2 linked regions of the Homo sapiens genome follow. The protein of the gene in region 2 interacts with the protein of the main gene of each other region in a pairwise test. Each region holds a gene or a part of one and is shown on either strand. Other genes may lie near its edges. The genes, in order: TFG and MSS51.

Evidence for each region.
Region 1: the proteins of MSS51 (region 2) and TFG interact in binary tests that used the Homo sapiens proteins (3 or more experiments, as listed by UniProt).

The regions. Positions count from the first base shown.
Region 1 is NC_000003.12:100,726,427-100,730,249, reverse strand, and holds part of TFG (protein TFG), read right to left. Parts: intron 1,539-3,823; coding exon 1,392-1,538; intron 1-1,391. UniProt on the Homo sapiens protein: Plays a role in the normal dynamic function of the endoplasmic reticulum (ER) and its associated microtubules. Required for secretory cargo traffic from the endoplasmic reticulum to the Golgi apparatus.
Region 2 is NC_000010.11:73,423,502-73,427,324, forward strand, and holds the end of MSS51 (putative protein MSS51 homolog, mitochondrial), read right to left. Parts: intron 3,231-3,823; coding exon 3,106-3,230; intron 2,877-3,105; coding exon 2,310-2,876; intron 1,691-2,309; coding exon 1,597-1,690; intron 1,272-1,596; coding exon 1,052-1,271; 3' UTR 78-1,051; downstream 1-77.

The sequences.
Region 1 (3,823 bases), on a different chromosome or scaffold from region 2:
GAGTAGAATGTGGGCCACTGTAGCTAATTTCTGAACAGTATTGGCTATACTGGTTAAATTCTCATCTACACTTCTTAATATTCTGCAGATGGTTAAATCCCCTGAAATTATATGCAAATGTTGTGTCAGCATCTATGAATTCTTCTGGAAAAATTGTCTAACTTTTTCATTGATTCTTGATCTAAAATTGGAAATTTTTGTTTGGAGAGGTAGGGCTCAGAATAGGCAACCTTCTTTGACCTGAAATATAAAAGGTTTCATCATAAAGTGACCAAGAGGATCTCATTATAGTATTCAGCAAATCTCCATTATGTTCTGAAATAGAAGTGCAACTAGGAATAATCAATCACCAAATATTTATTAAACATCTATCATTAACATAATTCCATATGACTATTAGAAGACAGGAAGAGAGAAATGATGGAAAATACATCTTTATTTAAACTGTAACTAAAATAAAAATAGAAAACAAAAACTTCCAAAATATTTAGTGGCCAAAAATAGAATACATACCATTTATCCACAAAAATTATCTCATGTTAAGCCCTTTATATGCAGTCATCCAGTCTAGACTTTTTTTAAATTACTATTTCACAATATGGACAGTTTTAAACTATGAAAATTATAAGCAAACAAAGAATTTGTAAAAAGAAAAAAATAATAATAAGAGTTTTCTTTAAATGCAACATCTAAGAATCTTAAAAGAAGAAAGCAGTTTTTTAACTGTACTTTCAAGTCATTAACACATACTTAAAGTTCAGTCCACATTTTAAAATACATTCGGTCCCAAAATTATGTCAGTTCCAAATGTTGACACATTTTGCTTTATCTTAACACAAACAGTACATGTCATTATACAATGGGGAAAAAATTAGTTTTTCTTTAATTATTATTAAAAACTGTGTTTCAAATTTACAACATACCATTTTTAATGAACATTACTAATCTAAGTGATTTTTAGTTGAAAATACTTCCAACACTATGTAATTATTCATGAAATGATTTTCAATTCCCAAGGTTCATTACTTATCTATTATACTAAAAAGGGTTCATGTGTCAAAAGGATTTGAAAACTGACCTGTGTAACAAATCCAAAAGTCTAAGACTAGTTGCGAAAGAATCACCCAAAAAACACTTTAAAAATGGGATTTCCAGGTGCTACGCTCCAGTAGGTCTATGATGAGATCCAGAAATTGGTATAATGAAACCTCCTAGTAATTCTGATGAACAGCAAAGTTTAGGAACACAGACATAAATACTAGTAGAGAGGCAGAGGAAGAAACAAGAGTGACATTGGGGATGCCATCCTTCTCCTACTTAAAAAGAGTTTTTTAAAACCTCCAAAAAGACGTAAGAACAATAAGTCAGAATACAATGGATTCAGGGTTTACCATTTTCAGGAATATTGGTGGAAGGTCCTGGTTCTCCAGGTGGTTCCAAGCTATCCAATAAACGATTCACTTTATTTCGAAGTTCTATCAGTTCTCGACGGAGATATTTCACCTGACTTGATTCAAGGGGTCTTGGCTGGCCATTAACTGAAATAAAAACATTTATTTGCTTAAAATTAGAAGTTCATGAATAAGTATACTAATAATATGCAACAAGGAAAAATAAATACAATTCCTTTAAAAAAACAAAAACAAGATATCAATGTAATGGAGTAACTTTTTTTTTAAAAAAAAAGAATTCTCTATGGCTAATAACTTATTTTGGAAAAAAAGCAGAATTATCAGTCTTTCTTGATGCCATACCTATAGCCTATGACCTTACTGGTAAAAAGGTTTGGTAGGAAAATCCGAGCTCTACTTTTTAATAGAAATGATTAAATTTAATAAAAATCATAACTTCAAAAGCTCACTTTATTTCATGCTGTTCTTAAATATTTATTAAATTTAATAGAAATTATTAAATTTAATAAAAATTATATAACTTAAAAAGCTCATTTTATTTCACGCTATTCTTAAAATAATACAAAAATACCTTACTCTATACATGTTTAAAGATATAACATGACTGATAGGTCTGTTATCCCTCTTGCATAACTTTGTCTTGAAAAAAAACAGCTAACTAAAATAGCTGATCTTAAAAGAAATCGTTAAAAAAATATATGCAGGGCCAGGCATGGTGGCTCACACCTGTAATCCCACCACTTTGGGAAGCCAAGGAGGGAGAACTGCTTGAGCCCAGGAGTTCAAGAAAAACCTGAGCAATACAGTGAGACTTCATCTCTACAAAAACCTTAAAAAATTAGCCAAGTGTGGCAGCACATGCCTGCAGTCCCAGCTACTCAGGAGGCTGGGGTGGGAGGATTGCTTGATCCCGGGAGGGGAAGTCCAGTTGGCTGAGATCACTCCACTGCACTCCAGCCTGGATGACAGAGGGAGACCTTGTCTCAAAAAATTTTAAAAAATAAATATAAATTTAAAAATATATGCAGAACTTATCTACATCATGACTGTCCTTCAAAGCAGTTACTTCCAGAAACAGTATATAAGCCACAAAATGCCAGAGATTACTCGGTAATCTCTAGTTGTGATTTTTTAATGAAAGCAACATTACTTCACTTATTATTCATTTTGTCCAAATGATTTTCAGTTGACTGAAAAAAATGAAATCCTTCATTCAGCAACAAACACTGTCACCACTCAGGTTATTTTTAAAAAGAAAGTGACACAAGGCTCTGATTGCAAACCCCAAGACAGGCGTTCAAAAATTAAACTAAAATGCTTTGCACATTGCCAGTATACATACATACAAACTCCTGAAGCACCTAATTAGAAAAGGACATCTACGTGAAAATAAAAGTTCAGGGCGATTCTTTGTTAAACATGTTTCAAAATCAAACCACCAATTATAAGCTTTTAGAAGAAAACTCACAGTAATTCACATACTCCCTGCATAGCTATGAAGTTCAATACAATCTCCTACCTACATCAATTATTGGTTTTCACTTGGTATTACTGTTTTTTCTCCAATATTTGATGAGAAAAACAGCTCCTAGCAGCCAGAAACTGGTCTGGTACAGTAAGACAGGCCTTAGTGTTGCTGGAAGCTGGCCTGGCACTCACAGGTAGGCTGTGGTGTTCTCCCGTTGAATATAAATATTTCAAAGAACACCAACATCACACAAGACTATAATCTGTGATAGATCAACAGTCCATAACCATGTCAAAACTCCAGACAAAAACAAGAACACTGACCACACCAGAAAAATGACCAAACAACCTTTTATCCTGGCTAATATGAGTAACTGCTACTACTTTACCAACTGCAGCTTTAGCCTCAATTCATTCCTCTCACCTTCCAGATAAGATTTAGTAAGATTCATTCCTCTCACCTTCTAGATAAGATTTGATAAGATACCCAAACATAGAATCATCTCTACTTCCTGAGAGCATCCAATGCAGAGCAAAGCTCTACTTCCTTGAACCTTATCCAAAATCAGGTAACACAAACCCAAGCCCAAAAAAAAATACTTTTCTAACATACTTGTAAGACATCCTATTGTTCTCCGTGGTATTCATTCTCCCTTGCTGCAGTAAGTCAGTAAACCCAACTTCATTCAACTACAGGTGTGTTCCTGGTGGTCTTTGGAGCACACTGATACATCTTACCAGAACTTTTAAGAACCTTGCATTTACATTCCTAGTATGGCCTATAATCTGTTATTATCTACTCAGTGGGTTTAAGAGCACTAAGCTCCAAATTATACTCAATTAAAAGTTTAAATTAGCTAAGTTTAAATTAATTAAGTTAATATTAGGTGTCAGCTTGATTAGAGTGAGGAATGCCTAGATGGCTGGTAAAGTACTGTTTCTGG
Region 2 (3,823 bases):
GAGAGAAACTTCCAGTCTTGAGGTGTTATGTGCAGATGAGTAATACTTGCCAGTGAATAGGAAATAAAACAAGTGACTTAAGAAGCCCCAAACTGAGTTTATTGGGGTATAGAATGGGGGATAATAAGTAACTCCAGTATATTCAGGTAAAGTCTGATATAGCTTGGGATATCTAAAATATAACACCAGGGCTACTCTAGGGTCAAAAGTCCCCAAGAGAAAACAGGAAAAGTAGACATTTCTCTCAAAAAAGTCAGGAAACAGGACACTGTACCAATGCTTACAACCTCATCCATGTTCCCAATGACTTCCCTGACTTGTCCATTCTTGCATCACTTCAAGTCATCAACATCTTTCCATTTTTTAGCCCAAATTACTGGATGAGAAGAAAGTCTTTTTCAGAAGAATAAGGTGGTTCTCATTCTTTTTCTCAGTGCCATCTGGTTCCAGTCAAAAGGTAAACTTCTTTACAAAGAAAAGTGTTAGCAACTATAAGCTCTGGAAAGACCAGCATCAGGGCCTCTTCCCACCCACTAAATCTAATTTCCTATCTCTAGAAGCTACTGTGGCTAAACTCTTAGAAACCAGTTACATTGGCTGGGCATGGTGGCTCATGCCTGTAATCCCAGAACTTTGGGAGGCTGAGGCAGGCAGATCACCTGGGGTCAAGGGTTTGATACGAGCCTGGCCAACATGGTGAAACCCTGTCTGCTAAAAATACAAAAATTAGCCAGGTGTGGTGGTGTGCACCTGTAATCCCAGCTACTAGGGAGGCTGAGGCAGGAGAACCACTTGAACCCAGGAGGCGGAGGCTGCAGTGAGTCGAGATCATGCCGCTGCACTCCAGCCTGGGCAACAGAGCAAGACTCCATCTCAAAAAAAGAAAGAAACCAGTTATGTTATACAGAAACTCTCATTCAGCTTAGAATTTTTACCCAAACAGTAAATGAGGTTTAGAATATAATGTTTTTCAAAGTTTGCAAGAACCTGGCATTAGCAGGGTAATTTCATCACAAACTCCCCGTTTTCCAGATGTCCAGTTATGATCTATTTAAATCCCGCCGTCCACTTTCTCTTCTAATTGCCTATTATCCAGCTGACAGGAGCTTCCAAGAAACATGATATAGTATGCACTGCAGTATACTGGCTGCTTGTTGGGACTGGAATAGACCTGTTCAGGTTTGAGGGACATGAAAGGATTAGACCCAAAGGCAGTGATGTGTGTATCCAGTTCCACCAGAATCTGCAAAGAGGATACCAACTCCTGATGGCTGTAGAAGAGAGAGAAGAAAAATTACTCTACTGATTGTGACAGAGATAAAGGAAAAACTGCCCAAGAGCCTGACATTTCTGTAATCACCCATCCCCCAAATTGCCTAAGGCTGGACTAGGCAAGGGCTATCTTTCCCTCCCAAATGTCTCATTAAATATTCCATTAACTAGCAAAGGACTGTTCCAAGGGGATAAAAAAGCCATATGCGGAAAAGAACATCCTCACCAGAAGGTAGATGAGCAAGAGGGGGGCAAAAATGAGCTCATCTATATAAAGAGAGATGTAAAGTCAGGGAAGTATCACAAATAGGATGAGGTCAAAACCTGTAAACAGTAATCAATGTAGGAATCTTATAGTCACGAAGTAGCAGCAGGGTGGGCAGCCAAGCCTCCATCAAGTCTGGGGAGGAATGAAAACCTGTGGAACAAAAATGAAAATGGGAATAGGGAAAGACTAAAGCAGACCCTAAGAGCAAGATATTTCTTTGACTGTGAGCACCCCACCCCTCACCTTGCTTATCCCCAGTCATTATCATCATCATCATCATCCACTCTTCAATGAAAAATTCTGAACCCAAGTGTAGTACATATGGCAAATTATCAAGAAAAGTTGTCATCAGGCTGGGCGCGGTGGCTCACGCCTGTAATCCCAGCACTTTGGGAGGCAGAGGCGGGCGGATCATAAGGTCAGGAGATCGAGATCATCGTGGCTAACACAGTGAAACCCCGCCTCTACTAAAAATACAAAAAATTAGCCAGGCGCCTGTAGTCCCAGCTACTCGGGAGGCTGAGGCAGGAGAATGGCGTGAACCCGGGAGGTGGAGCTTGCAGTGAGCCGAGATCGCGCCACTGCACTCCAGCCTGGGCGACAGAGCGAGACTCCGTCTCAAAAAAAAAAAAAGAAAAAAAAAAAAAGAAAAGTTGTCATCATATTGTGTTTAATGAGACCAAATGAATGGGGTTCCAAAGACAGAAGATTCAGGATGGAAAATTCTCAGGGGAGCCACCCTCTATTCCCCTGAACCAATGACTCTTACCTGGATGGAATGCCGCCACCAAATCTGGATGGTGTGTCTGCCCGGTCTCTACTTGCTCCTCCCAGAAGTCATGGTAGAGGCCCCTGTGGGCACTAAGCTGAATTGTGCCAGGTTCCAGGGGTGAAGTTGAGGTGCTCTGTGAAAAGCCAGTAGCTACATCTACACCCACCATGACCACACGGAGTCCAAGGTGCCCAGGAAACATGTAACCAAGCTCATCATAGTCCCCTGGGCGAGTAAGAAATGTCTCCACATGGGAAGCACCAACCACATGCACTGTGCTTCCCCCAGTCCTCCTAACATCTATCCCCAAGGCCCTAAGTCCTAGGCCTAGAGTCAAGGGCCGTGACAGGACATCTGTCAGCAGCCGCTTCAAAGATCCCTGCAGGACATCCGGGTCTGGCCTTGGCCGTCCTACACTGGCCCATAAGGTGGTCACAGCATGACTAACTAGCACAGCATCCAATGTAGCATCTAGGTGTAACCCCTTCATAGAAAACCAGGAGTCCCAGTCCTGTACAGCTTCAGGTGGCCATGGCCAAGGTCCTGAGGGTAGAACAAAATCACCTGTAGGAAAGAAGAAATAAGAAGTAACCTAATGCTTTCCTGGCTTCAAAATTTCCCCCTCACTAATGATCAATATTCCCTCCATGTTCACTCTGCCAACCTGTGAGCAGGCGTGCCCCATCCTTTGCCCCACTTCCTCATTTTTTCATAACAATATGATTTTGTATCTTCCTTTAAATGCAATCAACTATGACCATTATGGCAGAGATCCTCAACACCACCACTCCACCTGTGACCAGAAGCCATTCCATGAGACGGTCCACAGCCACAAGACGAAGCTCTTGACAAACCCTCCTGTGTGCGGGCCAGTCTGACTTCTGGCACTCTGGACCACAGTAATAGACATTTCTGCACCTGAGAGAATGAGAGAGAAATAGTTCTTATACTATAAATATGATTGGGGTTATCGGAGGAAAGGAACTGATATTCCTGCACCTAGGATGGTGAATGGGTAAGGAAGGTAGGGAGAGGAATGAGAGCTGATGCACCAATTTTGGGGACTACATTTGGCAGACAAGGCAGGAGGGATTGGGAATATAATTATTCTGCCAGACAGAGTGATACCTTACTCTCTATCTGGAACAACTCACTTTTTATATCACTTTTAGAAAAAACACCACGAGTTTGCAGCTGTCCTCTCATAACAGGTATGGTTCAACCTCCACCTCCCCAGAACAAATGTAGTCTTACTCCTTGAGTACTCAAGAGAGAGACAGAGAGGATTGTATTGTGGTTTCTTGTCTCACTTCCCAATAACACCAAAAATAAGCAGGATTAGAACACTGTTCTAATCTCTGTAGCCTGGGTGACAAAAAATGAGGACCTAAGTCTTAGGTTATTTTGAAAACTTTCAGATCTTTCCTCTTGGAATGAGGTTGTAGTAGAAGGTCATTGCTTTTTTTTTTTTTTTTTTTTTTTTGAGACAGAGTCTCGCTCTGTCATCCAGG